Linked DNA regions of Homo sapiens: all the other regions are linked to region 4. The links come from fine-mapping of genetic effects on gene expression. A gene starts in region 4. Each other region holds a variant in brackets. All regions are shown on one strand. Distances are from middle to middle. Region 1 has its middle 31 kb from the start of APPL2. Region 2 has its middle 45 kb from the start of C12orf75-AS1. Region 3 overlaps APPL2 (adaptor protein, phosphotyrosine interacting with PH domain and leucine zipper 2). Region 4 holds the start of APPL2 (adaptor protein, phosphotyrosine interacting with PH domain and leucine zipper 2).

Region 1 (8,303 bases), 29 kb after region 4:
TGATGTGTACTGAAGTGGAGAGTTCAGTTATTGAAGTTGAAAGATCTTGGCTTGAGGCTCAACATTGCCACATTCTAAATATGTCACTTTGGGCAAAATATGGAACCCATCTGGGCTTCAGTTTTCTCAACCATGAAATATGCAGGGGATGGGGAGCTGGATAATTTCTCATTTATTCATTTAACAAATATTTGTCGAGCACTTAACATTCATCTCCAAAATCTATATGATAGTTGTAAGCATTTTATGTGGACTCGATATGATCCCAGGTGTTACTTTTGCAAGTAGAGTTGTTTGTCAGGGGTTCTCCCTCATTGCATTTTTCTCATGCAGATGAGCAGTGGATTTAATGTTTCTGTGGCTTAGGGATCTCTTTGGGTATCTGGGGAATGCAGAGCAACCTCTCCACACGCCGACATACACACAGGCCAGACAGAATTTGGGCACAACCTAGGGGCTGGCTGACAGCTTTGCAGTCTATTTGTGGCTCTCTGGGGCCCTAAGAGCAGTGTACAGATTGAGAGTTGGACCACTCAGATTCTGCCTAGCTGGGAATCCTGGAAATCAGTAGGAAAAGGAATATGGTGGCAGCTACCCATTTGAAGATCAACTGAATAAGACACGAAACACTAACACAGGCAGAAAGGTCTCTGTCAACCAGCTGGCAACTCCTGCTACAGGTGAAATCAGGGAATGAAAACTTTTTTTATCTTTCTGCAAGACTAAGTCTTGCTATGTTACCTAGGCTGGAGAGTAGTGGCGTGGTCATAGCTCACTGCAGCCTCGAACTCCTGGGCTCAAGCACTCCTCCTATCTCAGCCACCCGAGTAGGTGGCACTACAGGCACACACACTACACTTGGCTAATTTTTAAATCTTTGTGTAGAGGCAGGATCTCATTATGTTGCCAAGGCTGGTCTCAAACTCCTGGCCTCAAGTAATCCTCCTGCCTTGGCCTCCCAAAGTGCTAGGATGAGAAGCGTGAGCCACTGCACCTGTAAGGAACGAAAACCTTAAAAAATGAGGTGTATGTGGATCATCTAACTCCCCTGCTCAAACCCTCCCATGTTCCCATTACACATGCTGTAGAATCCAAGGTCCTCTCCATGGCCTGTAGGGCTGTACCTGGTGGGGCCCCGGGCCCCCTTATTTCACTCCAACAATGCCACCCTATTGTGTTTCCAAACACACGCAGTAGGCTCCCTTTCCTTCTGTTTGGGGCTTTCTTAACCTAGATCTTCTCATGAAGCCTTTCTTGTGACTCAGGTCTCAGCCCACTGAATCTAAAGTAGTTCCCAGACACTCTCTATTGTGTATGTTTCTTCTCTTCCCGCCACTTGTCACCATCACAGTTTCCATATTTATGTATATGTTTATTGTTGGTTTCCAACATGAAAGATATACTTCTTATGAGAGTAGAAGGAACTTTGTCCCATTCCTTGCTGTATTCTCAAGGTTAAGCAGAGTACCCAGCACACAATTGGAGCTTGATCAGAAGTTGTCAGTTAAATGAATGAATAAATACACGGGTGAGTGAGGACAGTCATTGGGAAACTTGCCCTCCTCTCCATTCTATTAGGTTGGTGCAAAAGTAATTGCAAAAAGTAATTGCAAAAGTAATTGTACCAATCTAATAGAATGGAGGGGAGAGCAGGTTTGCTGACACCACCAAATGCTGGCAAGGATGTAGAGCAACAGGAGCTCTCATTCATTGCTGGTGGGAATGCAAAATGATACAGCCACTTTGGAAGACAGTTTGGCTGTTTCTTACAGAAATACACGTACTTTTACCATATGATCCAGCAATTGTGCTCCTTGGTATTGACCCAAATGAATTAAAAACTTATGTCCACACAAAAACCTGCACATGGATGTTAATAGCAGCTTTAATAATAATTAACAAAAGTTGGAAGAAACCAAGATGTCTTTCAGTAGGTGAATGGATACATTACTTTTATGGCAAAAGTCTCAATTACTTTTGTGCCAACCTAATAATATCATGCTATTAACAGAGGAGGCGGCGTGGGGTGAGGAAATGCCACTAAGAAAGTCTCAGATGAGTCTCAGCATCAAGGTGATGTGGCACATTGAGGAACACAGAACCTGGATCAGCCTGGCTAGATTCAGTCCGTATCTCTGTGCTGTCTGGTAAGTTCTTAAGAGTACCATATACTAACTGATTGCACCACTGGAGCTACAGGTAAGTTCTTTAAACTCTCTGCAAAATGGAGGTGATAGTAAAAGTACCTGCTACTGTTTTGAGTACTAAATACAATCATACATACAAAGCTCTTAGAATAGTGGCTAGCAGGTGGGCACGGTGGCTCATGCCTGTAATTCCAGCACTTTGGGAGACGGAGGTGGGAGGATCACTTGAGCCCAGGAGTTGGAGATCAGCCTGGGCAACATGATGAAACCATGTCTCTACACAAAATACAAAAAATTAGCTGGGTGTGGTGGTGTGCGCTTGTAGTTGCAGCTACTCAGGAGGCTGAGGTGGGAGGATGACTTGAGACCAGGAGATAGAAACTTCAGTGAGCCATGATCGCACCACTGCACTTCAGCCTGGGGGATAGAGTGAGACTCTGTCTCAAAAAAAAAAAAATTATTGCTATTAGGTCATTGCTTGGTAAAACTTTAAGCCTCTGCATTCACATCCACCTCTTGCCCCCACCTCATCATCAGCTTTTCCAAATGCTGAGCACTGCCCAGTAAGACAAAAGCCTGCCCCAGAGGTTCTCAGAATTCTCCCCATGACACTCCCATGTGCTATGGAAATTTCTAGGTTCCTCCCATTTGGCTTTACTCCATCCCTTTCCCTCATACTAAAGAAAGCGTTTTGGAAAACAGGTGAAATATAAAGTTATAAAGATAATCTTGCATCTTTTTAAACTTAAGAACAAAGTGTAAATCGTTAGAAAACTTGATTATTTGTCAAATGATCAAGACAAATGAGATTGAAAACCACTGGCCTTCATGGCATGCTTAGCAAGAAAGGGACTAAAAATGAAATGGGTAAGAAAGCCCTGAACAGTAACTTCTGTGGTCCCAGGAAGTAGTCAGTGACATTACCTGGAAGTGTTACAGAACCAGCCCCCAGAGAGGGACCTTTCATGAGTCCCACCAGCAAGTGACACTGTTTCCCAAAAGTAATAGAATTGGATCCCTTCCCCTCCACAGGGGAGCTGCAAGAGCTGTGTCCTCAAGCAAATAGAGAGAGAAGCCACCCCCTCTGGGATAAGTAGTACATCGTTGACACTTTGTAGGGCTAGCCTTCCTCAGCAATGTAAGTGATGTAAAAAATGGTGCCGAAATATGAACAACAATAAGATACCACTACACACCTATCAGAATGGCCAAAATGCAAAATGCGGACAACACAAAATGCTGGAAAGGATGTAGAACAACAGGAACTCTCATCCATTGCTGGTGGGAATGCAAAATG[G/A]TACAGCCACTTTGGAAGACAATTTGGCTGTTTCTTACAAAACTATGTATACTCTTACCATATGATGCAGCAATTGTGCTCCTTAGTATTGACCCAAATGAATTAAAAACTTATATCCACACAAAAACCTGCACGTGGATGTTAATAGCAGCTTTAATAATAATTGACAAAACTTGGAAGCAACTGAGGTGTCTTTCAGTAGGCGAATGGATAAATAAACCAGGGTACATTTAGACAATGAACTATAATTCAACGCTTGAAGGAAATGAACTATCCAGCCATGAGTAGACTTGGAGGAAACTTCAAAGAATATTATAAAGTGAAAACGCCCATCTGAAAAAGGCTATATACTGTATGAGTCCACCTATGTGACATTCTGGAAATGGCAGAACTATGAAGAGAGTGAAAGTACCAGTGGTTGCCAAGGGTTGCGAGGAGGGAGGAATAAAGAGGCAGAACGCACAGAAATTTTAGGGAATCCAAACTGTCCTGTATGATACTATAATGGTAGATACATGTCGTTATACATTTGCCAATACTCATAGAATGTACACCAAGAGTGTCAACTATGGACTTTGGGCAATAATGAGATGACAATGTAGGCTCATCCATTGTAATAAATGTAGCCACTCCAGTGTGCGGGTGTTGATAGTGTGGGAGGCTGTGTTGTGGGGGGCAGAGACTATATGGGAGCTCTTTGTACTTTCTATTCAATTTTGCTGTGAAGCTAAAGCTACTCTAAAAAATAAATTCTGTTTTAAAAACCCTTTAAATTAAAGCTTGAAAAAGTCCATGGAGCAGAGATCTGGAATAAGTAGTCCCATGCAGGAAGTCCCATCCCAGCATGTCAGAGTGGTAGACACAGAACATCCGCAGAACAAATGATTCCAGCCCAAAGACCAGAAGAAAAAGACTTATCTTGACCATCCTTTCCTTAGGGTTCTTTTCTTAGGGTTGCACTTCCTCTGTGAGGAGGGAATAGGAAAATGATAGTCAGACCCCAACAAGTGGTGGTTTGTGATAGAACTGTATTAACTGAATAATAAAATGTATATAGTTCTCCCTTCTATTGTGTTCAATTGCACTCCTCATTTTGTGGCCTTTGTAAAACCCCAAAAGGAAATCTTTGGAAAGCCATAGTTATGGATCTATATATCTGAACTGGGTTGTGTGACTGTCTCAGTTTGGGTTCTTCCCAAACCAGACCCTGAGACAATAATTTGAGTATAAGTCGTTTATTTGGGAAGTGCAGGGAATACTGGTAGGAAACGGGGAAGTGACACAGGAAAGGAAGCTAGTAAAGCCTCCATTATTTTATTCTTATTCTTATTCTTATTCTTCTTATTATTATTTTTGAGACAGAGTCTTGCTCTGTCACCCCAGGCTGGAGTGCATTGGCGCGATCTCGGCTCACTGCAACCTCTGCCTCCCAGGTTCAAGTGATTCTCCTGCCTCAGCCTCCAGAATAGCTGGGATTACAGGCGCCTGCCACCATGCCCGTCTAATTTTTGTATTTTTTAGTAGAGATGGGGTTTCACCATGTTGGTCAGGCTGGTCTTGAACTCCTGACCTCAGGTGATCCACCCGCCTCGGCCTCCCAAAGTGTTGGGATTACAGGTGTGAGCCACTGTGCCTGGCCAAGGCTCCATTATTAAACCAACTACTGCTGTAGGCAATTGAAATGTAATTTCACAGGGATGTTCTAAAAAATGGCGTAAAAAACACATCTCAGAATAATTCTTCCTGAGTAGCAAGTGGCTAGGGGAGATACATTTGGAGGGCTATTGGAGTGCAGACAGGCTGTGGTCATTTCCTGGTGCTTCTCTGCACAAGCATATGTCAGTTAGAATAGCTTTCCATGGTTCCAAAAAGAGCCTCCAGGCCCTAGAGGCCCACACTGGGAGCTGTGTCATCAGCTGGAGCGTCGGTGAAGACTGTAAGCAGGACACTGGTAACAGCTGCTACATTAACCACTGCAATCATCCAGGTTCATCTGGTTCCTATCCCAGCCCCACCATTACCAGCTATAAGATCTTCAGCAAATTTGTAACCTTTCTTAAGACTCGGTATTAAAGCTTAAGAATTAACACCAGCTTATGAGGTGGCTGTGAACATCAACTAAAAAATGTGTGTCAAGTAACCCTGGCACATAGTTTCAATTTATATATATGCGTGTGAGTCTGTGTGTGTTTCTGTGTTTGTGTGTACACATAAAGACACACACACATATTTCTTGGAGTAGTGAGATAAGAGACTGCGCTCATTGAATGTAGCTTTAGCAAGGCTCACTTAGACCCGAGAGGGCTACATATTACCGACCACACTGTAAAAGACTGATTTTTATATCAGATCATCACCCCGTTATTGAGCATATAAAATGTAAACAGGATCTAGATTGGCATTCCCTGGGCTTTAAGAAACTTTCAAGAAAGTAATACAAGAGAAAACTTCTGTAGCTGTCAGATGGCTTCCTGGCTCTCCCTGCTCTTACTTAGGCTATGATTTGGTCCTATAAACAAGACCCAAGTCTGGCTTTTTCACTAGTGGGAGAGTGACTCTCCTCTCCTAGCAGTGGAGATGAGGAAACAGAAGGTGCTGTAGCTTTCCAAGGGAACTGTTTATCTCAAGATGCCTCAAGGACCTCCACGTTCTCCTCTCAGTTTGGGGCTGTGGCTTACTCCACTGCTAAAACAATGAAATCTGCCCCTGAACAATAATTGTTTTATGGAAAGAAAAATGTTGTCAAAAAAAGAAAATCTTCATTGTTTTGCAAAATCTCTAAAAGGACCAGATATAAACTGTTGATTGACCAGTGTGCTTATTTTTCAAATGGAAAAATAACACCTTTTTTAAAAAAGTGACCTTTCATACAAAAGATACTGAAATTTTACAGGTCTTTCTTTTTTTACTGAGATATTATTGACATACTGAGAAAAATCTTGTATTAAAAAAACTTTTTGGTATTAAAAAAGGATGGATAATAGCTGCATTTGGTTGGATGTAAAATGTTAGGATTCAGAATTTGATTTGGATTTTAAAGTCAATCAATCTTCCAGTCAACATTACTAAAGGTCCAATTGGCAAGAGTATAAACTAAAAGAAGGCAAAATATTTAACAAAAGTTGATGGTTATTGAGTTTTCAAAAGAATGTCACTTTCTAACAGTTGTTCTTGAGAAAGGTTTTGCAATATCATCTGGGTATTTTTAAGTAAAGGACCAAGGTTTGGTTTCTGGTTTGATGTAAGGGCAGTTTGAGCCAGAACCAAGAAATGTACTGGTTCACTTTTTACAGTCTCTTCTTATCCTACACTCCTATGGCCTGACTGCAGCGAGGGATATCTTGAAAAGCTACCAGTTCAGTGGGTCTCCTCTGGGCATTCATTAGTATACCTACTTTGTTCGTAGAATGATTTCTTTCAAGCCTGGAACCAGAGTTGATTTTTGTACATGCAATTTCTCCTAACTCATTTCAATGTTTTGTTTCTCATGATACATTTTAATCTTTCTTAATTTTAGCCTTTTTACTTAGTCACCCCAATTCTTCGAACTGTCTGTACGTGTGATACCCAAGGTCTTATACCCTATTCTGTTCAGAGGAATGACCAGACAACCCAAACTTATAGCTTTCCACTTACAGACTCACTTAAGCCCTGCTAAAGTGGGACTGAGATTTTCTGATTGCTTCTCTATCTGTCAGAATTTTGATTTTTAATCCCTGTCTGCTGGGTTTCAAAGTTCATGCATTTTCTTTATATCACGCACCTCTCTTTTTGGGTGCAAAACTGAAAGACAACAGCCTTTATATTTTTGATGAGTGTATGACTAATGCTGTTGCATCTGGATCGGAAAAGAGGAAATTCATAACAAATGGCCAGCAGTAATCACCTCTAAAGTACTTGAAATTGGTTGGGAAAAATTTTCAGAAGCTTTCCCAAAATTTTCATTTACCTCTTCTAGTGATTTTGGAGTTTCCCAACATAGATATTTAAGATTTTTAAAATGTTCCTTATTCATTGTATTTGCTTTCATATTTACTTTCATTATCATCAATTGAAACATCTTGTTCCTGCTATTTTTTTCTGCAAATAGGTGAATTTGAACAACATCAAGGCATAAATAGGCCTCTGTGGGCTGATCTGGGAGCCCTACCATTTAAAAATTGTTTATAAGAGAAAACATGTTCCAATTCTAAGCAAACAAATTAAAACATAACCCTTTTGTACATTGGACATGGCTGATTTGTGCCAGGTTAAGAGTATAAATTAGAAGCAAGGCTGGCCAAATTCAAATTCCAGCTCTGTTTCCAGCTAGCTGTGTCATCCTGAGCAAGCTTCCTAACCACGCTGAATCTCTATTTTCCTTTCTTCTTACCTGGAGGACATAGTACCTACTGCAGAAGGTTTCAGAGAGGTATGAATGATGTAATGTACATAAAGCACAGAGTAAAACTTAATAAATATTAGCTATTTTGATCCTGTTTTTAAGGTCCCATTCAGGCCCCTGACTTTAGTAGGAAGGTGAGAAGGAGGAAGGCCAGGGTCTAGGCTTTGCTTCTGGGGCCACAAGTCCCTTCTAGCATGCAAGCCAATAGTTTATTACAGAAAGACTTGCTGTCATAAGGATTCCCTGTATGACCCTGAAAAGTTTCACCATCTTCTGTGCCTGTTTTTTCTTCTTTAGGATGGATGTCAGCAATAATAAAACCTTCCTCTCCTTAACTCACAGACCTACTGAGAAAATAAAGGAGAGACTCTCTGCTTGAGGTCTTTGAACTAATCAGTTCCACATAAGGTGTCATGAATCCCAGACTTGTGAAAGTTCACATCTGTAGTCATCCTTTTTCGGTGAGTGAAGTAGG
Region 2 (8,303 bases), 44 kb after region 4:
TCTCAGAGTGGCCTTGGCTGACACTGAAGTCTTGTAATATTGTTTCTATCCAGTAGGAGAACATGGCCTGGCTGTGAGCATCTGCCCAGTGCCAGGATGTTCAAGGCTGCTTTCTCGGCACTGACTGTGAGTGCACTAAGTACTTCACACACATTATTTCATTTAATTCTGAAAACTCTATTAGGCAGATATTGAGTCCCATTTTACAAGTGATAAAATAGAATCCTGAAGAATTTAATGTTAGCAGTGAGTCAACAGCAGGCAGTCAGGACTAGTAGTACTGACCCCAAAGTCCATACACTATTAAGCTACCACTCGTTTGAGCCTGAGCTGCCTTAGAGATAAGGAAAGGGCAGAGGGCATGCATGTGTGGGAAAGCAAGCTGGACTACAGGGCCTTGGCACTTGGCTTTTTGTTCCCCTGCTTGTGCTGTCTCTGGGACTTCAACATTCCTTAGATCAGTCACCTAACACTGATGTCCTCCCAGGTTCTCGACCCTGGCTCTCTGCTCCAATAACATTCCCCTCCTATCCATTTGGCTACCTCTACTTGCCTGATCACACCTTGGGACTTGCCATTTCTCCAAATGGGCCACCTCTAGAAGTTAAAATTGTGAAGTTCTTCTTGTATCAGATCATCTAGTACATATCCACAAAAATAAAAAAATAAAAAAAAAATTAAAAGCGTCTTATTAGTCTACCTTTTTCATGATCTTGTGTCCATTAAAATCATTCTTCCCCTTTCTTTCTTCTTGACTCCTCCCTATCTTCTAAGCCTGTCACCCCTCCTGGCTTCATTTTATCTTCTTCCTTTTCCACCTTGGCCCATATGGTGCATCAATGAATTCACTACATCTACCTAAATCCCCTCACCTCCTTGACTTTCTGGTAGTTCTCAACCCTGCCTTAATCATGATTTTGATTTAGAATGCTTACCCTGTGTCAGACACTGTTCCCGGCTCTTTTTGAAGATTAATCCGTTTAATCATCACAACCTATTTAGCCCACATCCTATGGGCTAAAGTCAGTCATGTACTGCATAACAATGTTTTCGTCAACAACTAACTGCATGTATGACAGTGGTCTCATAATATTAGGATATCATATTTTTACTATACCTTTTCTATGTTTAGATACACAAATATTAGGTTGGTGAGAAAGTAATTGCAGTTTTTGCCATCACTGCAATTACTTTCGCACCAACCTAATACTTAGCATTGTGTTACAATTGCCTACAGTATTCAGTACAGTCACATGCCATACAGGTTTGTAGTCTAGGAGTAACAGGCTCTACCTTACAGCCTAGGTGTGTAGGAGACCGTACCATGTAGGTTTGCGTAAGTTAACTCTATTATGTTCACACAATGATAAAACTACCCAGTGATGCATTTATTAGAATAAATATCCATCATTAAGTGATGCATGACTGTACCCTTATACTCTCATTTTACAAATAAGGAAACTGGGGCACAGTTGTTAAATAACTTGCCTGATGTTAAACAGCCACTAGGGGGCAGAGCCAGAATTTGAACCCAGGCTGTCTAGCGCCAGAGTTCATGCTGGTAATCAACACACTGTGCTGCCTTACCCACTGTACTGTGCTGACAGCCTTCTCTCTTCTTCACCGCTGCTTCTGGTGATTAAATGGCTATATAAACCTGCATGGTCAGGGCTTGCAGGAAGTCTCACTTCACTAACAAAGCTAAGTTCATCAACTCCTATCCCTTCTACACCAACTTCTCTGCATGCTTACCTGGTCTCTTCCTTACTCTTCACCCTTGGAGTATGTAGTATATAGTAGGGCGAGATGCACAGAAAAATCAAATAACTCAAGTACAATAGCCCTTATCTGTAATTAAGTTATTAGATTTTTCTGTGCATCTCCGCCATACTACAAGCCAACCACCACTAAAAATCCATGGGTTGGAAATAGGTAGAGCGATCCAAGGGTGTGCTCTACCTAAGATTTCCAACCCATGGGCTCAGCTCCTAAGTCAGTGCTCACCAAGCCTGATAGCACATAAAATGCGCCCATTTGCACAGCAAGTAGAGAACAGAATTTCTGCCGTTCCCCCAAATGAGCATTTATTAAGCCTGAGTGACTCCCTGGGCACCACTGGAACTATCCAACTCTAGCCTTCCAATCACCCACCCTGTGTGTCTGGCCTGACTGGCAGAGGTAAGTCATGACTTGTGTGGCTGAACTCGCACTAGCCTTTTCTCTCGGGGGTTGAACTATGTTCTTGTCTATGTCCAGTGGCTAGAATTTTCCTTCATCCCTGGGGAAGTTTCTCCTGGAACCAAAGTAATGCCACCCACCTTGTAATGCATCTTGTTGCTGCCTAAGGACTACTGTGGCCACATCCCACCTCTGGGGACTGACCATTCTGATCAGTGGGTCAACCTTTTGTGTGTCACAGAAGCACTTAAGAATCTGATGAAGGTTAAGAAGAACTCTTTACTGATATATGTATCATTTAAGCAAATATCCTGGAATTTTGCAAACAAATTTAAGGACTTACAGATTTCCCTGAACTTTTTTTGCAAAACTACTCATTTTTGTAACCAGTATAGAATCTTGTATGGGGCACTTAGTAAATGTTTGTTGAATTGAACTGCATGAACTAAATCTCAATTCAGCAATCCTAAATGCAGAAACAATTACACACACACACACACACACACACACACACACACTAGTTATTTGTTTTGCTCCAGAAAAGGACTTAAAGTGGTTAATATTTAGACATTTGCTTCTTTAAAACATCTTCATAAGTATCGAGACTCAGTAGAGACAAATTCCTTTTCCACTTAATTTAACAAAGACTCAGAATTTTTTTTTAAAGAAATAGTATCAGAATACAAAATGAAAAAAGCAAATCGCCCAAAACCAGTTAAAGGACATAAAACTGAATTCTTGTAGTTTGCATATTTCTTATCAGAGTGGTTCTTAGTCCCCTCCCTCCTCCCAAATTCAACAAAGCCATTGTTAACAGTGACTCAGACTACATTGATTCCAATGAGGGTTGGCTGTGGGCCACACTTTTACTTGGGGATCACGGCAAACTTTCTGGGGAGAGGCCATAGTTTAGAGGAAGGCCTCCAGGGGATTCTGATATCTCTGCCTTTTGGTATCCCCACTCTCATTAGTGTCCTAGGATAACAAGTGCTACTCAATCATTAACTCAGTTTGGCTTATTGGGCACAGAACCTTCTGTTCCTCTGTTGATCTGGTTAGGAGAGCAGGCTTTAAACCGTCTGAATTTGAATTTTGGGTCTATCACTTGACCTCTCTGTGCCTTAGCTCCACTGATATCACCTGCCAAAAGCCCTCTTTGGTGCTAACAGAACACAGATCTGTTCTGATATTAGTGTGATGTCCCTTGACCTCGGGTATTCCTATACCCTATCCCAGCCCCAGGATATGAATCATGATTGGTCAAAAATACTCATAGAAATCTTATTCCTTTTGGTCAGCGATTAGTCTAAAGGTGGGCTTGCAACCCAGGTATGACCAGAGAGATGGAAAGGCGAGTCAGCTGAGGTAAGTCGGGAACATAATCCATACCAAATATAAGGCAGATCCTTAGGAGGAGAAAATCCTTCCTTGTTCTTCCTGCCTAGATGCAGACATGATCCTGGAGGGGCAGCAACCACCTTGTGGCTTGGAAAGGAAAGTCAACATGCTAAGAAGGCAGGAAGGGAAAACAGAAGGAGCCTGGTAGTTGTTTGTTGTTGCTGTTTGTTTTAGAGTCCAGTAGTTTAATTGTATAGTGCAGTTTCTGCATCAGCTCTGGACTTTGGACTCCTTATTCAGTGAGAAAAATAA[G/A]CAATTCATTTGTCAAGCCCCAGTAAATTTTGTTATGTACAACTGAATGCATTCTTATCTGATATACTCAGTTTATAATTTATAAAGTGAGGATAAAAACAGTACCAATCAGAAAGGAAGTAAAATTACCCTTGTTCACAGAGGACATAATCTTATATCTAGAAAACCGTAAAGATTTCATTTAAGAAATCCAAAGTGTTGAACTAATGAATGAATTCAGCATAGTTGCAAGATACAAAGTCAATGCACAAAAAAAATTCTGTTTCTTTATACCAACGGTGAAATTAAGAAAACAATTTCCTTTTTAATAGCATAAAAAAGAATACAATACTTAAGAATAAACTTAACTAATGAGGAGAAAGGCTTGTACATAAGTATCAAACATTGCTGAAAAAAGCTAAAGAAGGCTTGGCTAAATAGAAAGTCATCCATGTTCATGGGTGATTATTGTTAAGATGGCAGTACCATCTAAAGCAATCTATAGATTCAATGCAGCTTCTATAAAATTTCAATGATACTTTTGGCAGAAATAGAAAAGCCCATCCTAAAATTCATATGGAATGTCAACGGACGCCAAATACACAAAACAATCTTGAAAAAGAACAAATATGGAGGGCTCCCACTTCCTGATTTTAAAACTTACTACAAGGCAACAATAATCAATAGTAGATTACTGACATAAAGACAGTGAAATAGAATAGGAAGTCCAGAAATAATTTCTTGCTTGTATGGCCAAATAATTTTTTTTTTTTTTTTGAGACGTAGTCTCACTCTGTGGCCCAGGCTGGAGTCCAGTGGCGCGATCTCGGCTCACTGCAAGCTCCGCCTCCCGGGTTAATGCCATTCTCCTGCCTCAGCCTCCTGAGTAGCTGGGACTACCGGCACCTACCACCATGCCCAGCTAATTTTTTTGTATTTTTAGTAGAGACGGGGTTTCACCGTGTTAGCCAGGATGGTTTCGATCTCCTGACCTCGTGATCCGCCCGCCTCGGCCTCCCAAAGTGCTGGGATTACAGGCGTGAGCCACCATGACCGGCCATGGCCAAATAATTTTTGACAAGGGTGCTAAGATAATTCAATGGGGGAAAGAGCAGATTTCAAAAAATTGTGCTGGGAAAACCAGACATCCACATGCAAAAGAAGGAAGTTGAATCCTTATCTAAGATCATACACAAAAATCAACTCAAAATGAATGAAAGACCTAAATGTAGGACCCCAAACTAATAAATTCCTAGGAGAAAACATAGGGAAAAAACCTCATGACATGGATTGGATAATGATTTTTTGCATATTACATCAAAAGCACAGGTAGCAAAAGAAGAAATAGTTTTTCATCAAAATAGAAAACTTGTACAACAGCAAACGATATTATCACAGAGTGAAAAAGGCAACCCATCGAGTGGGAGAAAATAATAGCAAATCATGTATCTGGTGAGGGGTTAAAATCCAGAATATATAAAGAGCTCCTACATCTCAACAACACAAACAACTCAATTAAAAAATGGACCTTAATTACTTTAATGTACTGTAATTAATTTACTTAATTGGAGGACTTGAATAGACATTTCTCCAAGGAAGATGCACAGATAGCCAATAAGCACAGAGAGATTCATCACTAATCCTTAGGAAAATGCAAATCAAAACCACAATGAGATGCCACTATAAGGTTAATGCTAAACCATTGGCAGTACCCAGAAGGAGAAGTTAAGGAGTCTAATCTCTCCTCTGGCTGCTGTGTGGAGGATGGACTGTGTAAGGGTAAGAGTGGAGGCAGGGGAACTCGTTGGGAGATTGCTGCAAAGATGAGGCCAGACATCATGGTTTCAACTTGGGTGATGAGATGTAGGGTTGTGGTTCTATTTTGGAGGTTGAGTCAGCAACATACATGGCTGGACTCGATGCAAGATTTTAGGGTGAGGGAAAAATCAGAATAAGCTCTAAGTTTTGTACCTGAGCAATTGAGAATATGACAGTGCAATTTACCAAAAAGAGGAAGGTTTAGTGAGGAAGCAGGTAAGGGGCTGACTGGTAGGGGAGAGAGAGGAGTAGAAAAGTAGATAGCTTTGTTTTGGTTCTACAAAATTCGGATGCCTACTGGACTTCCAAGTTGATATATGATTCTGGAATTGGGGGGTTGGGAATTGAGTATCATAAATATAGAGATGGTACTTGAAGTCAAGGGAGAGAATGTAGAGAAGAGACAGGGCCAAGGATAGAAATTTGAGCTACCTAAAAGATAGAAGCCTTACAGAAAGGAAGAACAAAATAAAAAGGCTGAGAAAGAGTGGCCACTGAGTTAAGAGAAAGTCCAGGTGAGTGATCTTACAAAGGCTCAGAAAAGACTTTCAAGAGTGACAGCATGGTCAACTGTTGCTGAGAGGTTAACTAAAAGGTAATGAAAAAGGAACTAGGCTTTGGCTAGATGTAGAGTATCTACATCTTGATAATGACCTTGATAATGGAGAAGTGGTAGAGATAATAACCCAACTGGACTAAATTGAATACAGAATGGGAAGTAGGAAAGTGAGGATATCAAATATGGACATGTCTATATAGGAACTTCGCTGAGAAGAACTTTGTGGTTGATTGGATGTGGTGGGTGAAGCAGAGAGAGAGACCAAAAATCTCTCCCACAGTTTTGATCTGTGCAACTGAGTGGATTGGAGGTGCCAGTCACAGAAGCTGGGTTGTTGGGTTGTTGGTTCAGGATGCTGGGAGGCTGGGGAGTTGAGAGGGATGGGTGCCTTCAGCTCCACATCTACCCAGGGCTCTTTGGAATTTTTGTGAAATGATGGAATCCTTCCTTCTTTCTGGGGTAAGGCACATGGTCATTAATTAACAAAGATTAATTTCACAAAAAACATGTAAAAGCCCAACAATTTACACATGGGTTTTAATTTGGGTGCGTTTTTAAAATGCAAAACAGCAAAAGGCAAACATGAGCTCTTAAATCCCTCTGCTGTACTACTTCTGAGATTGAGAAATCACTTCTTAATTATTAAGAAATACTCTCTAACACAAGCAATTTTCTTTTAATTTTCTTTAAAAAACAGCAATCAGCATACACTGCTTTCAGTTGTTCAAATGAATTAGCCTCAATTTATAGACTCAGTACTGGGAATTATTCCAGAATTACTTACTCTAAATAAGTTATTAAACATAGTTAAAGCATAAAATAAAAGTTGACTTTTTTAAGTTCGGCCAGCAAAAAGGAAAAAATAACCTCTTTAATAATTTTTAATTTGAAAAATACTTATATGTAAAGACCACCCCTTCTCCAATTCCTGAGATTACTCTGCCAATTTCACAAGAGTTTCCTGCTTCTAACTGCTATGGATTTCTTGTTTTTGGAACACTTAAGTTATATTCATCAAAGAGATGAATATGAGTATCTTATATTTTAAAAGCTGGAAAACAATTTCAAAAGAATCATAGTGCTTTTCCTGCAATAATGTGACAAACTGTAAAAAGAACATTTAAAAATTATCAGTATCCCTGGAAAGGAGGAACATTTAGTTTTAGATCTTGCTGATGATTGTGAATTTCTTTAATATTTATTCTTGTGCTAGATACTCCTTTTTACCACATTGTTATAAAAATGCTTATTTCAGCAAATCATTTTCAAAGGAAGAACAAAGTGAACACTGGAGAAGGTAGGCACTTCCTTTCTGAAGTTTAGGGAGAAACTTTTTCTTACTGCTGGTGATTACCTTCTGAGAGACACAGGGTTGAAACCGAATGTTCATTTATGATTTCTGCTTCTCTTCCTTCTTTTTCTGTCACTGCTCAAAACCTTATTTGATAAGCTGTGTTTTTAAACCTGATTTAAAATTTACAAAGAACACAAGGGCATACAAAGAAACATCCTCCGTTACCTCCCCAGCCAGCCAGTTACCCTTCCCAAAGGTAATCAATGTTTTCAGTTGGTCATGGATTCCCCCCTCCTGATAGTTTATGCATTCACACGCAAATACTTATACACCTGCATAGGTATATACATTTGTCCTTAAAGATAACTTTATAGTTTGAAGTAGTTTATAGCAAATATTTCAAAAAAATTTTTGTAACATCACAAGAAGTTACAGAAATGGTAATCTTGCATTAGCATAGCATATAGTCAATAAAAATGATATTGGTATAATGCTACCAATTCAAATATAAACCTTATTCTATACACTTATTTCTACCCATCCTATTTTTCCCCCCAAATAATAGCATGTTGTACCTTTTGTGCTACATATTGCTTTTCTAAATTTAACAGTATAACTTGGAAATCATCTCATATCAATACACAGAGCTCTTCCTCAATCTTTTAAAAGTCTCCGTAGGGTACTACTGTATGAAAAATCAATTTAACCAGATTTCTATTGGTGGGATTTTTAGTTGTTCCCAATCTTTTGCAATTACCCATAATTCCATGATGAATAATTGTCTACGTAAGTATTTTGCACATATCTCTAGGAAAAATCCTTGGA
Region 3 (8,303 bases), 54 kb before region 4:
ACTGTAGCCTTGTAGTATAGTTTGAAGTCAGGTAGCATGATACCTCCAGCTTTGTTCCTTTTGCTTAGGATTATCTGGGCTATGCGGGCTCTTTTTTGGTTCCATATGAAATTTAAAGTAGTTTTTTCTAACTCTGTTAAGAAAGTCAGTGGTAGCTTGATGGGAATAGCACTATTACTTTGGGCAGTATGGCCATTTTCACGATATTGATTCTTCCTATCCATGAGCATGGCATGTTTTTCCATTTGTTTGTGTCCTCTCTTATTTCCTTGAGCAGTGGTTTGTAGTTCTCCTTGAAGAGGTCCTTCACATCCCTTGTAAGTTGTATTCCTAGGTATTTTATTCTCTTAGTAGCAATTGTGAATGGGAGTTCACTCATGATTTGGCTGTTTGTGTATTATTGGTGTATAGGAATGCTTGTGATTTTTGCACATTAATTTTGTATCCTGAGACTTTGCTGACGTTGCTTATCAGCTTAAGGAGTTTTTGGGCTGAGACGATGGAGTTTTCTAAACATACAATCATGTCATCTTTAAACAGAGATAATCTGACTTCCTCTCTTCCTATTTGAATACCCTCATTGCTTTCTCTTGCCTGACTGCCCTGGCCAGAACTTCCAATATTATGTTGAATAGGAGTGGTGAGAGAGGGCATCCTTGTCTTGTGCTAATTTTCAAAGGGAATGCTTCCAGTTTTTGCCCATTCAGTATGATACTGGCTGTGAGTTTGTCATAAATAGCTCATTATTTTGAGATATGTTCCATCAATACCTAGTTTATTGAGTGTTTTTAGCATGAAGGGGTGTTGAATTTTATCGAAGGCCTTTTCTGCATCTATTGAGATAATCATGTGGTTTTTGTCATTGGTTCTGTTTACGTGATGGATTACATTTACTGATTTGCGTATGTCGAACCAGCCTTGCATCCCAGGGATGAAGCCAACTTGATCATGGTGGATAAGCTTTTTAATGTGCTGCTGGATTCAGTTTGCTGGTATTTTATTGAGGATTTTTGCATTGATGTTCATCAGGGGTATTGCCCTGAAATTGTGTTTTTTTATTGTGTCTCTGCCAGGTTTTGGTATCAGGATGATGCTGGCTTCATAAAATGAGTTAGGGAGGAGTCCCTCTTTTTCTATTGTTTGGAATAGTTTTAGAAGGAATGGTACCAGCTCCTCTTTGTAACTCTGGTAGAATGTGGCTGTGAATCCATCTGGTCCTGGGCTTTTTTTTGGTTGGTAGGCTATTAATTATTGCCTCAATTTCAGAACTTGTTATCGGTCTATTCAGGGATTCAACTTCTTCCTGGTTTAATCTTGGGAGGGTGTATGTGTCCAGGAATTTATCCATTTCTTCTAGATTTTCTAGTTTATTTGCATACAGGTGTTTATAGTATTCTCTGTTGGTAGTTTGTATTTCTCTGGGATCAGTGGTGATAATCCCCTTTATCATTTTTTATTGTGTCTGTTTGATTCTTCTCTCTTTTCTTCTTTATTAGTCTGGCTAGCAGTCTATCAATTTTGTTAATCTTTTCAAAAAACCAGCTCCTGGATTCATTGATTTTTGAAGGGTTTTTCGTGTCTCTATCTCCTTCAGTTCTGCTCTCATCTTAGTTATTTCTTGTCTTCTGCTAGCTTTTGAATTTGTTTACTCTTGCTTCTCCAGTTTTTTTGAGATGGAGTTTTGCTCTTGTTGCCCAGGCTGGAGTGCAATGGCATGATCTCGGCTCACTGCAACCTCCACCTCCCTGGGTTCAAGTGATTCTCCTGCTCCAGCCTCTCCAGTAGCTGGGATTACATAGGTGCCTGCCACCACACCTAGCAAATTTTTTGTATTTTTAGTAGAGACAGGGTTTCATCATGTTGGCCAGGCTGGTCTCAAACTCCTGACCTCAGGTGATCCACCTGCCTTGGCCTCCCAAAGTGGTGGGATTACAGGCATGAGCCATGGTGCCCAACCTTCTAGTTCTTTTAATTGTGATGTTAGGATGTCAATTTTAGATCTTTCCCACTTTTTCCTGTGTGCATTTAGTGCTATAAAAACATTGCTTTAGCTGTGTTCCAGAGATTGTGGTATGTTGTGTCCTTGTTCTCATTGATTTCAAGTAATTTATTTATTTTTGCCTTAATTTCATTATTTATTTACCCAGCAGTCATTCAGGAACAGGTTGTTCAGTTTCCATGTAGTTGTGCAGTTTTGAATGACTTTCTTAATCCAGAGTTCTAATTTGATTGCACTGTGGTCTGAGAGACAGTTTGTTGTGATTTCTGTTCTTTTGCATTTGTTGAGGAGTATTTTACTTCCGATTATGTGGTCAATTTTAGAATAAGTGTGACGTGGTGCTGAGAAGAATGTATATTTTGTTGATTTGGGATGGAGCATTCTGTAGATGTGTGTTAGTTCCACTTGGTCCAGAGCTGAGTTTAAGTCCTGAATATCCTTGTTAATTTTCTGTCTTGTTGATCTAATATTGACAGTGGGGTGCTAAAGTCTCCCAATATTATTGTGTGGGAGTCTAAGTCTCTTTGTAGATCTCTAAGAACTTGTTTTACGAATCTGGGTGCTTCTGTATTGGGTATATATATATTTAGGATAGTTAGCTTTTCTTGTTGCATTGATCCCTTTACCACTATGTAATGCCCTTCTTTGTCTTTTTTGATTTCAAGTCCGTTTTATCAGAGACTAGGATTGCAACCCCTGCTTTTTTTTTTTTTTTTTTTTTTGCTTTCCATTTGCTTGGTAAATCTTCCTCCATCCCTTTATTTTGAGCCTATGTGTGTCTCTGCACATGAGATGGGTCTCCTGAATACAGCAAACTGATGGGTCTTGACTCTTTATCCAATGTGCCAGTCTGTGTCTTTTAATTGGGGCATTTAGCCTGTTTACATTTAAGGTTAATATTGTTATGTGTGAATGTGATCCTGTCATTATGATGGTAGCTGGTTATTTTGCCTGTTAGTTGATGCAGTTTCTTCACAGTGCTGATGGTTTTTACATTTTGGTATGTTTTTGCAGTGGCTGGTACTGGTTTTTCCTTTCCATATTTAGTGCTTCCTTCAGGAGCTCTTGTAAAGCAGGTGTGGTGGTGACAACATCCTTCAGCATTTGCTTGTCTGTAAAGGATTTTATTTCTCCTTTGCTTATGAAGCTTAGTTTGGCTGGATATGAAATTCTGGGTTGAAAATTCTTTTCCTTAAGAATGTTAAATGTGTGCCCCCACTCTTTTCTGGGTTGTAGCGTTTCTGCAGAGAGATCCGCCGTTAGTCTGATGGGTTTCCCTTTGTGGGTAATGTGACCTTTCTCTCTGGCTGCCCTTAACATTTTTTCCTTCATTTCAACCTTGGTGAATCTGATGATTATGTGTCTTGGGGTTGCTCTTCTCGAGGAGTATCTTTGTGGTGTTCTCTGTATTTCCTGAATTTGAATGTTGGCTTGTCTTGCTAGGTTGTGGAAGTTCTCCTGGATAATATCCTGAAGAGTGTTTTCTAACTTGGTTCCATTCTCCCTGTCACTTTCAGGTACACCAATCAAATATAGGTTTGGTCTTTTCACATAGTCCCATATTTCTTAGAGGCTTTATTCACTCATTTTCATTCTTTTTTCTCTAATCTTGTCTTCACACTTTATTTCATTAAGTTAATCTTCAATCTCTGGTATCCTTTCTTCCACTTGATCGATTTGACTATTGATACTTGTGTATGCTTCACGAAGTTCTCGTGCTGTGTTTTTCATCTCCATCAGGTTATTTATGTTCTTCTCTAAACTGGTTATTCCAGTTAGCAGTTCCTATAACCTTTTATCCAGATTCTTAGCTTCCTCGCATTGGGTTAGAACATGCTCCTTTAGCTTGGAGGAGTTTGTTATTACTCACCTTCTGAAGCCTCTTTCTGTAAATTCTTCAAACTCATTCTCCGTCCAATTTTGTTCCCTTGCTGGCAATGAGTTGTGATCCTTTGGAGGAGGAGAGGCATTCTGGTTTTTGGAATTTTCAGCCTTTCTGTGCTGCTTTTTCCTCATCTTTGTGGATTTATCTACCTTTGGTCTTTGATGCTGGTGACCTTTGGGTGGGGTTTTTGTGTAGTCATCCTTTTTGTTGATGTTGATGCTATAGCTTTCTGTTTGTTAGTTTTCCTTCAGGCCCCTCTTCTGCAGGTCTGCTGCAGTTTGCTGAAGGTACACTCCGGACTCTCTTTGCCTGGGTATCACCAGTGGAGGCTGCAGAATAGCAAAGACTGCTGCCTGCTCCTTCCTCTGGAAGCTTCATCCCAGAAGGGCACCCACCAGATGCCAGCTGGAACTCTCCTGTATGAGGTGTCTGTCGATTCCTGCTGGGAGGTGTCTCCCCGTCAGGAACCACCAGAGTCAGGGACTCACTTGAGGAGGCAGTCTGTCCCTTAGCAGAGCTCAAGCGTTGTGCTGGGAGACCTGCTGCTCTCTTGAGAGCTGGCAGGCAGGAACATTTAAGTCTGCTGAAACTGCGCCCACAGCCACCCCTTCCCCCAGGTGCTCTGTCCCAGGGAGATGGGAGTTTGATCTGTAAGCCCCTGAC[TG/T]GGGGCTGCTACCTTTCTTTCAGAGATGCCCTGCCCAGAGAGGAGGAATCTAGAGAGGCAGTCTGGCTACAGCAGTTTTATGGCGCTGCGGCAGGCTCAGCCCAGTATGATCTTCCTGATGGCTTTCTTTACACTCTAAGGGGAAAACCACCTACTCAAGCCTCAGTAATGGCGGATGCCCCTCCCCCCCACCAAGCTCGAGCATCCCTGGTCAACTTCAGACTGCTGTGCTGCCAGTGAGAATTTCAAGCCAGTGGATCTCAGTGTGTTGGGCTCCGTGGTGATGGGATCCACTGAGCAAGACCACTTGGCTCCCTGGCTTCAGCCCCCTTTCCAGGGGAGTGAACAGTTGGGACTCGCTGAGGTTCAGACGCCACTGGGGTGCGAAAAAAATTCTCCTGCAGCTAGCTCAGTGTCTGCCCAAATGGCCGCCCAGTTTTGTCCTTGAAACTTAGGGCCCTGGTGGTGTAGGCACTCGATGGAATCTCCTGGTCTGCGGGCTGCAAAGACAGTGGCAAAAGCCTAGTATCTGGGCTGGATAGGTCTGTCCCTCACTCACGGCTTCCCTTGGCTAGGGGAGGGAGTTCCCCGACCCCTTGTGCTTCCTGGGTAATGCAATGCCGCACGCTACTTCTGCTTGCCCTCCATAGGCTGTACCCACTGTCTAACCAGTCCCAGTGAGATAAGCTGGGTACCGCAGTTGGAAATGCAGAAATCACCTGCCTTCTGTGTTGGTCTCACTGGGAGCTGCAGACTGGAGCTGTTCCTATTCAGGCACCTTGTCTGGGAATCAATTTTTCTTTTTAAATCTTCTAATTTTCTGTGTGACCTCTAAATGGTCTCAGAACCTATTCCACTGCAGGGGTATGTTTACTGTGGTGACGTATGCATAACGTCAGATTTATCATTAGTGATGTTAAGTGTCTTCATAACTTTGTGCAGCCATTACCACTATCTAGTCCCAGGACATTTTTATCATCCCAGAGGAAACTCCATCCCCATTAAGCAGTTACTCATTCCTCCTCCCACCCTCTGGCAATCTCTAGTCTGTCTTCTGTCTCTATGGATTTGCCTACTCTGGATATTTCATATAAACAGAACCCTACAGTATGTTGCCTTTTGTACCTGGCTTCTTTCACTTAGCACAATGATTTCATCATTCATCCATGTTGTAGCACTTATCAGTCCTTTGTTCCTTTTTAAGGCCAAATAGTATTCCATCATATATATATACAGGTTGAGTATCCTGTATCTGAAATTGTTTTGGATTTCAGCTTTTTTTTCAGATTTTAGAATACTTGCATTATATTTACCAGGATGAGCATCCCAAAATCCAAAATGCTCCAATGAGCATCTCTTTTGAGCATCAAGTTGGCACTCAAAAAGTTTCAGATTTTGGAGCATTTGAGATTTCCAGATTTGGAATGCTCAACTCTACCACATTTTGTTGATCCATTCATTTGATGTTGGGCATTTGTATTATTTCCACCATTTGGATATCACGAAAAGGACTGCTATGAACATTTGCGTATAAGTTTTTGTTTGAACACCTGTATTTAATTCTTTTGGGTAACTACCCAGGAGCCCGCCAAACTATTTTTTCACAGCAGCTGAACCATTTTATATTCCCACCAGCAATGGGTTCCAGTTTCTTCACATCCTTGCTAAACGCTTATTTTCCATTAAATATATATATCATATATATATCATATATATCATATATATGATATCGATATCATATATATCATATATATGATATATCATATATATATCATATATCATATCATATATCATATCATATATATATCATATATATCATATATATATAAACATCTGTGAGACAGTGTGCATGCGTGCGCACGCCATCTTAATATGGAGTGACATATCTCATTGTGGATTTGTTTTGCATTTCCCTAGTAACACATAGCATCTTTTCATGTCCTCATTGGCCATTTGTATATGATCTTTGGAAAAATGTCTATTTCAAGTCCTTGGTCCATTTTTTAATTGGGTTGTCTTTCTGTTGAGTTTTATAAGAGTTCTTTGTATATTTTGTGTACTACATCCATATTAGATAGAATTTGTGAATACTTTTTTCCCATTCTGTAGTTTTTCTTTTCACTTTGATGTGCTGTGGTTTTTCACAGTACTTTTACATATATTTTCCTTTGATCTTTTTGGTGGAAATTATTCCAGGACCAATAGGATTATAAGAACCATGAGCCCATTTCTGTAAAAGGTCCAGGACATAGTGAAAGAACAGGTTTTATTAATAAGAACTTAATTCTCAGATAAGGTTCATAATAAATGAAAAGGATGGGCTTAATGAATGGAAGAAGCTATATCCTAATTTTTGCTATAGTCCTAGTTACCTTTTTTGAAGCTAACGTTCATTGAGCACTTTTCATGTGCCAGTGAGTTGTAAATGTCTTACATATATTAGCACATTTATTCCTCATGACATTTATTCCTCATGACAACAGTGGAGGGTGTGAATAGTTACTTTCATTTTACAGCTGAAAAAACTGAGGTACAGAGGCTCAAAAATTTGCTTAAGGTCACATAACTAAGAAATGCCGAAGCCAGGAATAAACTGAGACATTCTGGCTCTAAAGCAGTGCTGTCCCTTAGAAATGTAATGGAAGCCTTATATGTCATCGAAGTTTTTCCAGCGGCCACATTAAGTGAAAAGTAACAGATAAAATTAATTTTACTTAATCCAGTATATCTAAAATATTACCAGACATGTGATTAACCTAAAAAATTAGTGAGATGTTTTACATCCTAAATCTTAGAAATTTGGTATGTATTTAACACTGAAAACACATCTCAGTTCAGGCTAGTTTTGCTGCAGATGCTACCTGTGGCTACAGTATCATACACCCATGTTCATAACCAGGATTTTGGTCATATCTGAAACCCAGATCGTATTACCTGAAACACTAAATCATGTAGTTAATATGGCCTGCTCTCTCTGTGATGGCCAAGTTATTTAGGCAGATTTTTAAGTTTTTTTCCATTATTTTTTATAAATAGTACTCTCAGAAATGAAAAAAAAAAAGCAAAACCAAAAAACTTCCATTTTCAAGCTCTGAGCTATAATATAGAGAATAAGTCTAGTGTGATGGCATCTTTGTGAACAACAGTATTCACTCACCACTGGATTTTTGAAGATACCAGTTCTTGTCTCTAAGGGAGCACTTTCTAGGCTATCTATCTTATGTAAAAAGTAGTGGGGGCAAAAGCAAGAGTAGTCTCTTCATTCCAGTACTAACATTTCAGATGGGTGCATTAGCCTTAAAAGGGGAATTAGCTGAAGCCATAAGAAAGTCTGAAAATAAAACTGAACGTACCTCAAAGATTGACTGGTGACCATCAGATGGGATTCTGTCATGCGGAAGATGTTATGAATAGCCCGAGCAGCCAATACTTGTCTCATCGCTTCATAAATCACTTCAGTAGTGCTGTCTGTTTTAACTGCCATTGATCCCAAAAACCGAACTATAAACATCTGCTGCAAAAGAGAATCTGGAAGACAGCATTTTCCACTCAGGATCTCATTTACTTCCTGCTGCTGTTGATCTGCATACCAGGGTCAGATGTGCTAGTTTTGCCTGCTTTCTGTGGAGGACTTTCTACCAAAATTTCTCAATACCACTTTTATAAGCCCAATATTGCCAAAGCTCTGCGTCTTCCATTTGTCTACATCTTGTCAGTTTGTTTGGAACTACTTCATTAGACTAGAAAGGCTTTTC
Region 4 (8,072 bases):
TAAATATGCTCTGATGATCATTAAAGACCTTCTTAAAGTCAGCTTCCATTCTGCACAACAGCACCATCAAGAGCCCTCTTAAGGGTGATGGCCAAGTCTCAAAAGCAATGACAAATAAACTTCCTATATTAAAAGGAACATATTAAATAAGAATGATAATATCTCTAAACCTCCTCTGCCACATACAAGTTCAAAGTTATACACCATGTAGATATGACAATGTTAACTCTAAAGCACCTTGAAGATCACCTGCTCCCTCCCTGTCTCTCATTCTGTAGATGTTCTGTAGATTAGGAAACTGAGCCAGCTACAGGGTGGAGATGAAGAGACTCACCCACATCACATCCTAAGTGAGCGTGAGAGCCAGAATTAGAACCCAGGTCTCCTGACTTGCTCTACAGTCCTGTCTACTTCCTCACAGCTGGGCAAATCCTTTAAGCCACTCACAAACAGTGTATATTCCTTTATGTTAGAGCTGGAAATTAAGAATATGATCTGTTTGTGAGGACAACATCAAGAATCAGTTAGTATAATCACTGTAACCTGGCTTAGGCATCACCATGTAGGTTAGAAAAGCAGGATATTTCTGTGCACCTCAGTTTCCATAAGTGCAAGGCAAACAGAGATCCTTGTTCAAAGTGATCATTTAAAATCTCACATTGCTATCTTCAGATTCCACACAACAGATATGAACATGGACAAAATGCCTTCTACCAAGGGCTTTAGTCTGATTAAAATGCCAGGAGTCTACAGCCATATAAAAAAGGGAGGCCTTGAAAAAGTCGTCCAGAGGATGCAAACTTACCAAAAAACAAAACAAACAAACAAAAAACACACACACAGCTTGCTTCCAGTTCCTTACTTATCTACACTAGGAGGATCACAAAAAATGAACAAAAGACACCTATGCATACAGCCCTTCGGACTTATTCTGAACTGTCGATGTAGGTAAATCCATACAAGGATCATCCTGGGAAGTATTATTCACTTAGAAGAAAAAGGGAAGGAACCCCAAAAGAGAGGGGAAAGTGTGAAACGAAAATAGGTTAATCTTATTCTAAGTTTTCAAGAGTTGAGACACTAGGAAATAAAGGCACTTATTTAAATAAACCCGGGATGCTGAACCAGGAGTGTAGGTACGAAGCTGGAGAAATGTTAAACAAAGGAGAACAAAAGACCCCTGGGGAAAGATGTGCTGAATTATGAACTAATGTCATCCTGCACTCATTTGCTATATTTACACACCAGTTTTCATCTGCAGAGCTCAAAGGACTTGACTCTCATCTCGAGTGTGCTAATGAAGTTCCCTTGTGCGACAAATGGGGCAGGTACTGTATTTTTCTCTTCACTAATGGGAAAACGGTGCCAAAAGGAGGCCTGGTACCGCCGGAAAAGAGATCCAGGCCCTCTGCCTCTCATTCTGGCTGGCACAAGTCTCATCACATCATTAGGAGTAGCAGTAATAAGACTGACTCATTATCTGTACCGGACATTGTCTGCTGACAACTTTACAGGTATTTCTCATTGACTTCTCCTAACAACCCTATGAAGCAGGCACAATTATTATTCCTATTTTACAGACGACAAAACTAAGGCACAATAAGGTGGTTTTCCTGAGGCACTCAGCTACTACATGGAATCAAAGTTTAGATCTCGCAGACTCAGTTGCAGCTGAGCTTGCAGGGGGGTCACGACATCAAGACTCCGGCCGCGGGGCTCTCTCCCCTGTTCCACAGCTCTGCCCCGGCTCAGGACTCAGGGCCCGGCCCGCCCCCTCCTCAGCCCGAGAGAACCCGGTGGGAGGCGCCGCGAGGGGGCCGGGCGCACTCCCGCGGCTGCCCGGCCGGGGGCGCGGCCTCCACTCCGGGGCTGGAGGGGCCTCCTCGGCCTCACCCCTGCGGGCGAGGGGCACCGGAGCGGCGGGAGGTACCTGGGGGCTGTCCTGCAACGCCTCCTCTAGCAGGAGCTTGTCCACGGCGGGCATGGTGCGGCGCGGCTCAGCCGAGGGCTGGGTTGGAAGGACAGAGGGCAGGAGACGCGGCGGCCGAGAGCACTCCCCGGCTCTGGGCTCAGGCGACGCGGCGGCCACTCCGTGCCCGCGGCGGCCCCGCGCGCGTCCACGCCTGGCCAGTGGCCGCCGCCGCCTGCCCGCCGGCCCAGCCCCCGGCCGAGCCGGATCAACAGGAAGTGTGGCGCGCCCGGCAGGGAAACCGGAAGTGTGGTGAGCTCCGGTCCCGACACCGGAAATGTGGCGCCCGCGCTTCCGCCTGCGCTCGCCGGCTCGCGGGGAGCGGGGGGCTCTGGGTGCCAGTCCCGTTGCTGAGGGAACCCTTCGGGTGTTTGTTCTCTGTGCTGAAGGTCCGTCAAGTCAATGCATATGAAGTCCAAAAGAGGAACTCGAGGGTAGAAAGATAAGGTTTTATCTGCTTATGGCTACCCAGAAAGCCTTTTGAGTTGAAGGAGCGAACAGATTTTTTCTTTTAATGGAAGGAAAAACCCACACTTCCCACACCACTTTTTCTAGATAAATTTCGACGCCCCTGAAACAGCTCTGAGAGCAAAGAGGTCGCCTATGCTATGGGAACAAAGAAAAGAGGAGAAAAGCTGGATAACTGACTCGTCTGTGATAATCAGAAATAACCACTTTGGAAACCACAGCTATTTGATGTGGTCATAATTAGGTCTCGTCCTCCTGGTTTATGTTTTGTGATTTTGGAGAATTTCATAATCAAATGTTTAGAATTGGAAGGGCTAGATAATCTAGGTTCCAGTGTTGTCATTTAGAGATGAGAAAATGGGACCCAGAGAAATAAGTGGTCTGCCCAGGGTCAGTTAGTAAACGCCAGAGGAAGAAAAGAAGGAAGGGAGAGGGATGGAAGAAGACTGGCAAGTGGAACGTGACACCTTTTTACACGGAAGGCAAGGGTTTCTGAAGTTCCTTCTTTAGAAGTTAATAAGACTGGCCGGGCGTGGTGGTTCACGCCTGTAATCCCAGCACTTTGGGAGGCCGAGATGGGTGGATCACGAGGTCAGGAGTTCAAGACCAGTCTGGCCAAGATGCTGAAACCCCGTCTCTACTAAAAATACAAAAATTAGCCGGGCGTGGTGGCATGCGCCTGTAATCCCAGCTACTCGGGAGGCTGAGGCAGAAGAATCACTTGAACCCGGGAGGCAGAGGTTTCAGTGAGCCGAGAGGGCACCACTGCACTCCAGCCTGGGCAACAGAGCAAGACTCCGTCTCAAAAAAAAAAAAAAAAATCATGCAGTATGTGTGTCACCAAAATCAACAGAGGGGATATGGTAATATATAAATTCTGCATTCTGCAGAGACCTCTTAGGTATATCAAGACCCAATCTGCATTGCTGACACCTCTGACAGTCTAGTATAGTAGCATGCTGCCTGATCACTTGAAAACTCCAAGGCCATTATTCCCTTGGTCTGGCCAGCGCCAACCTGACCTGAACCATTTTATGGCCTCCATCTACCATATTTTCCTCCACAGTATTCTTTCTTCCCTATTCTTTCTTGCCTCCACCATACTCTTGTCTTCCCTATAGGTGGAATCATGCTCACACCATATTTCTTCCCTTTCCTCTATTTTATACCGCCTGCCATTCAGTTCATTTTACCTCATCCAGTGTCCCAGACTCTCTTCTCACTGAAATCTAATTCCTCACGGCCAGACTCATGCTCTTCCTTCATCCTGATTGCGAGAACAGTACAAGGATAGTATTATACCCAGGGAAATAAATGTGCACATTTTAATTTGAAAATATGCATTACAAGAAGTTAGTGCCCTCAGAACCCTTGAAAGGGCTCAGACAGCCCCTTGGGAATCACAGCATTTTTCATGTACCACCTCATCTTCTAATTAAAGTTACTTTTCTTCAAATACTAGTATTCAACATTCAAAAATTGTTTAAGCTATCCCATTACTTTTCTGCATTTTCTTGCTACATTATGGGCTAAACAGCCTTAGTGGGATTTCTTGGAACTTAAGAACTGTTTACAACATTGTTTCTATGGGAAAATCTATCCCAAATTCAAAACAACTAAGTTACAAAAGTAGATCTGGAAATACAACACATGCATAAATGGTTTTAATTTATCTCATTTGTTAATTCATCCAATCATTCATTCATGTATTAAATATAGACTGCTCAGTGTTAAGCACTGTCTCCCACTTGTTTGATTCTCATTTAAATTCTGAAGGCAAATATCCTCTCCTTTGATAATCTGTGAGAAACTACATAAGAGGAATTTTTATGTCAACATGAACATTTAAAAATGTTTCATTAAAGAGTATATATCTGTTCCTATTAAACTATTATGCAGGTGGATTTTAGAAATCCACCCCACTGTCTCTGAAATCCCTGGTCAGCTGTGAAGTTGGTGACAGGAAGTATAAAGATGGACAGTCTGGAGTTGTCGTGATGTCTGAAGAGAGAGAGGATGAATTATATGGAGGTGTAACCTGTGACCCATTGAAGGCCAGTGGGGAAAAGGACACAGTGAGACACAAAAAAAGGACCCAGGATGGCCAGGTCAGAGAAGGCCTGGGGCTTCAGGAGTAAGAGAGAAAGGCAGGAGTGAAGAAGGCAGCTGTTTTGGGAGATGCTTAGCAAACTGCATGATAGGGCACACGCATTGAGATTCTTTCCTCTGCCAGTCAAGCCCTTTCTCCTGCCTCTTGTCTGACAAACCCAACCACAATCATCAAATCCCAGTTTAATGTGACTTTTTTGATGAAGTCTTCATTTACTCCTGTCCCCCCAAGCAGAATACATTTTCCTTTCCTTGAGTGTGCTTCAGTAGCACTTGCCGAGATAATTCTAGAATAACACTTACCTCTCTTTGTTTCCACCTCCAACCTTCCAGCTAGAATGGGTAGGAACTTGGTCTTATTTATTTCTGTAATTAGAGTGCCTAGTACATTACCTAGCACAAAAGCAGTTGCTTGATAAATACTTACTAAACTATAATGTGTTATTATAACTTATACATGATTGATACTCCAGAGTTTAAAAAATGTTTTCATGAATCTCATTTCATTTGATAGCACAATGCTGCTTTTGCCGTTAATCATTCACTAGGTAGCACCGACTGTGTGTTAGACTCTTCTCTAGAAGCTGAGGATATAGGCTGAAGCAAAAAGTAGTCCTTGCCCTAATGGAGTTTATATTCTAATGGAGGAAATAATAAGAAACAAATACAAGTTGATAAGTGTATGATAACCTTTAGTAAAGGAATAGAGGATCATGGGAAGTGGAAAGGATTCTTTGAGGTGTGCAACTGTTGAGCTGAGAATTGAATCAGGGAAGCCCAGCCCGAAGGAAAGAACAAGTGTGAGGGCCCTGAGGCTTGCTCCTCTTTGAGGAGGAGCAGAAAGGCCAATGTGGCTAAGGACAGCGAGGCGGGAAAGAGTGGGAGGAGATGAGGTTGAAGAGATGCCAATCACTGGCTCACAGAGGACGCTGAGTCCATGGGGAAGGACTTTGGGTGTTGCTCTTGATATGGCAGGAAGCCACTGTAAATATGAGCAACTGAATGACAGGGTCTGATTTACATTTTTAAAGACTATCTCTGGGTTCTGAAGAGGCTTTTGCAATCCTTCAAGCAAGAGATTTGAGAGATATAGGTCAAAGTCGAGGGTATGGAAATGTTGGGAGGTAGTTGAAGTCTGAACATATTTTGAAAGTAGAACTGACAGGATATGCTGGATGTAGTATGTGAGAGAAAGTGGGAAAGCCATTGGGCAAATGGTCCTGTGATTTACTGAGACAGAAAACCCTGGGGAGAAGCAGGTTGTTGGTGGTGGCGCATCAATAGTGCTGTTCAGGCTGTTGTGATTGAGATGCCCGTTAGGCAATCAAGTGGAGGTTTCATGTGGGTACTTGTATATACCACTCAAGTTTAGGAGGAGACTGGGGCTGAAGGTATAAATCCATGAGTTCACCAACATGGGGACGTTATTTAAACCAAAAGAGTAGATGAGATTTCTTAGGAATCTAATACAGAAAGGAAAGAGGAAAGCTTGGTGGATTGAGGCCCAAGCAAGATCCAGCAGCTAATGGTGTAGGAGGAATATCAGGAGACTAATAGACCACCCTAGAAGCCCTATGAATGGGAAACTTGGAGGCACTACTATACTAAAAGCCAGGGGACAAAAGGTTTCAAAAATGAATTGATCCACAATGTCAAATGCAGCTAAGAGATCAAGTAAGAATAAAGACCAGAAATTGACCTTTAAATTTGCCAATAGGAAGGTCATTCGGTGAATTTGGTAAGAGACTTTGATAAGAGCAATTTTATTTGAAAGCAAGATGGTGTCTGTTCAAGAGCAATGGTGGGAATACAAAGACAATTCTTTCAAGAGGTTTTTCAATAAAGGGAAGTGGTTGAAGGGGAAGTGACTGCAGGGGATGATTTAAAAAAAGGGAGGTTTTTGGTTTGTTTGCTTGTTTTAAAATAGAAAAGTTGTAGACTTTAGGCAAGGTATTTAATCTTTCTGAGCTTCAGTTTACTTCCCTATGATATGAGAATGGCATTACCAATCACAAGTTGTTTCCATACACACCTGTCTCTATGTCCTGTATTAGTCAAGACTTTTTAAGTGGCAAATCACAGAAACCTAACTCCAACTGGCTTAAAGAAAACATAAAAGTCTGAAAGAGATTGGATTTCTTAGATTATTTATATGCTGATGAGAATGATCCAGTAGAGTGGGGGAAAAGCTAAAGATATGAGAGAGAGGTGACAATTGCAAGAACAAAGTCCTTGAACAGACAAAAAGGAGTAGAATCCAAATCACAAGTGATAGGCTTGGGAGGCTGAGGCAAGTCGATCACTTGAGGCCAGGAGTTCAAGACCACCATGGTGAAACCCTGTCTCTCCTGAAAATACAAAAATTAGTCGAGCATGCGTGTGAGCACCTGTAGTCCCAGCTACTTAGGAGGCTGAGGCAAGATAATCGCTTGAACCCAGGAGGCAGAGGTTGCAGTAAGCCAAGATTGCACCACTGCACTCCAGCCTGGGTGACAGAGTGAGACTCTTTAAAAAAAAATGCAAAAAACAAATCACAAGGGATAGGGATGGCCTTAGATAGAAGCAAGGACAGTACGTTCATAGTGATACAAGAACAGTAGGTTGGTAGATTAAATGGGAGGAATGAAGGCGTTCTATTCTGATTGCTTTTATTTTTCTCAGTGAGATAAGAAGCAAGGCCATCGGCTCAAAGCAATAATGGTCAGATGGTATTGAAGGTTTGAGGAGAGAGGAGATGGCATAAAATAGTCATCTTGGAGCACAGGAAGGTGAGGCATAAGTATTAGTATCCTCATTTGATAAACGTTACAACTGAGGCTCAAACAAATGATGTGACAGGGCCCAAATTCTAAATGCCAGGGCTCTGCCCACTGTACCCAAAGAGAAGAAGGAAGCCTGCTCAGTAGGAAGCTTCAGACTACCCAAACCTAGGATTCCTGTCCTTTTACCTCCCAGGTGCCTACATAGTGTCTGACTCACAACAAATGCTTTCCTTTCCTTTTCTTTCTTTTTTTTTAAATTTTTTTTAATATTTATTTATTTATTTATTTATTTTTGAGATGGAGTCTTACTCTGTCGCCCAGGCTGCAGTGCAGTGGTGCCATCTCAGCTCACTGCAACCTCTGCCACCTAGGGTTCAAGCAATTCTCCTGCCTCAGCCTCCTGAATAGCTGGGATTACAGGCGCCCACCACCACGCCCAGCTAATTTTTGTATTTTTAGTAGAGACGGGGTTTCAGCATCTTGGCCACGCTGGTCTTGAACTCCTGACCTCATGATCCACCCATCTCGGCCTCCCATAATGCTTTTCAAATGCTTGTTGAATGGCAGCATTCAATCCTGTTCTCTCCACCCAAAACTTGTGACTCAGGTTCTGTATCACCGACTGTCCTCTCATTTGCTTTATGAGACAAATGAGACTGTCCTCTCATTTGTCCTCTCATTGCTCCCTGTAGCCAGTCCATGGAAACAGAGAGGAAATTCATGACCTCCAAGGAGGTTTGGAGTCCTTCACGCCTGAGAGATCA

What was found. PIP is the estimated chance that this variant, and not a neighbour inherited with it, causes the effect.
Region 1: its variant is fine-mapped to the expression of APPL2 in blood mononuclear cells (TOPMed, PIP above 0.99).
Region 2: its variant is fine-mapped to the expression of APPL2 in pancreas (GTEx, PIP above 0.99).
Region 3: its variant is fine-mapped to the expression of APPL2 in whole blood (INTERVAL, PIP 0.96).

The regions. Positions count from the first base shown.
Region 1 is chr12:105,262,560-105,270,862 of GRCh38, forward strand. No RefSeq gene overlaps it. Among named protein-coding and RNA genes, the nearest start is that of APPL2, 31 kb to the left of the region's middle. The variant G/A (reference allele first, on the strand shown) is at 3,445.
Region 2 is chr12:105,278,146-105,286,448 of GRCh38, forward strand. No RefSeq gene overlaps it. Among named protein-coding and RNA genes, the nearest start is that of C12orf75-AS1, 45 kb to the right of the region's middle. The variant G/A (reference allele first, on the strand shown) is at 3,829.
Region 3 is chr12:105,180,372-105,188,674 of GRCh38, forward strand. APPL2 (adaptor protein, phosphotyrosine interacting with PH domain and leucine zipper 2) reads right to left here. Exons shown (of 21, transcript NM_018171.5): 17 at 7,902-8,076. Among named protein-coding and RNA genes, the nearest start is that of APPL2, 52 kb to the right of the region's middle. The variant TG/T (reference allele first, on the strand shown) is at 4,548.
Region 4 is chr12:105,234,029-105,242,100 of GRCh38, forward strand. It overlaps APPL2 (adaptor protein, phosphotyrosine interacting with PH domain and leucine zipper 2), which reads right to left and starts at 2,146. Exons shown (of 21, transcript NM_018171.5): 1 at 1,931-2,146. The coding sequence starts at 1,984. RefSeq lists silencers at 1,725-1,974, 2,025-2,164 and an enhancer at 2,029-2,529.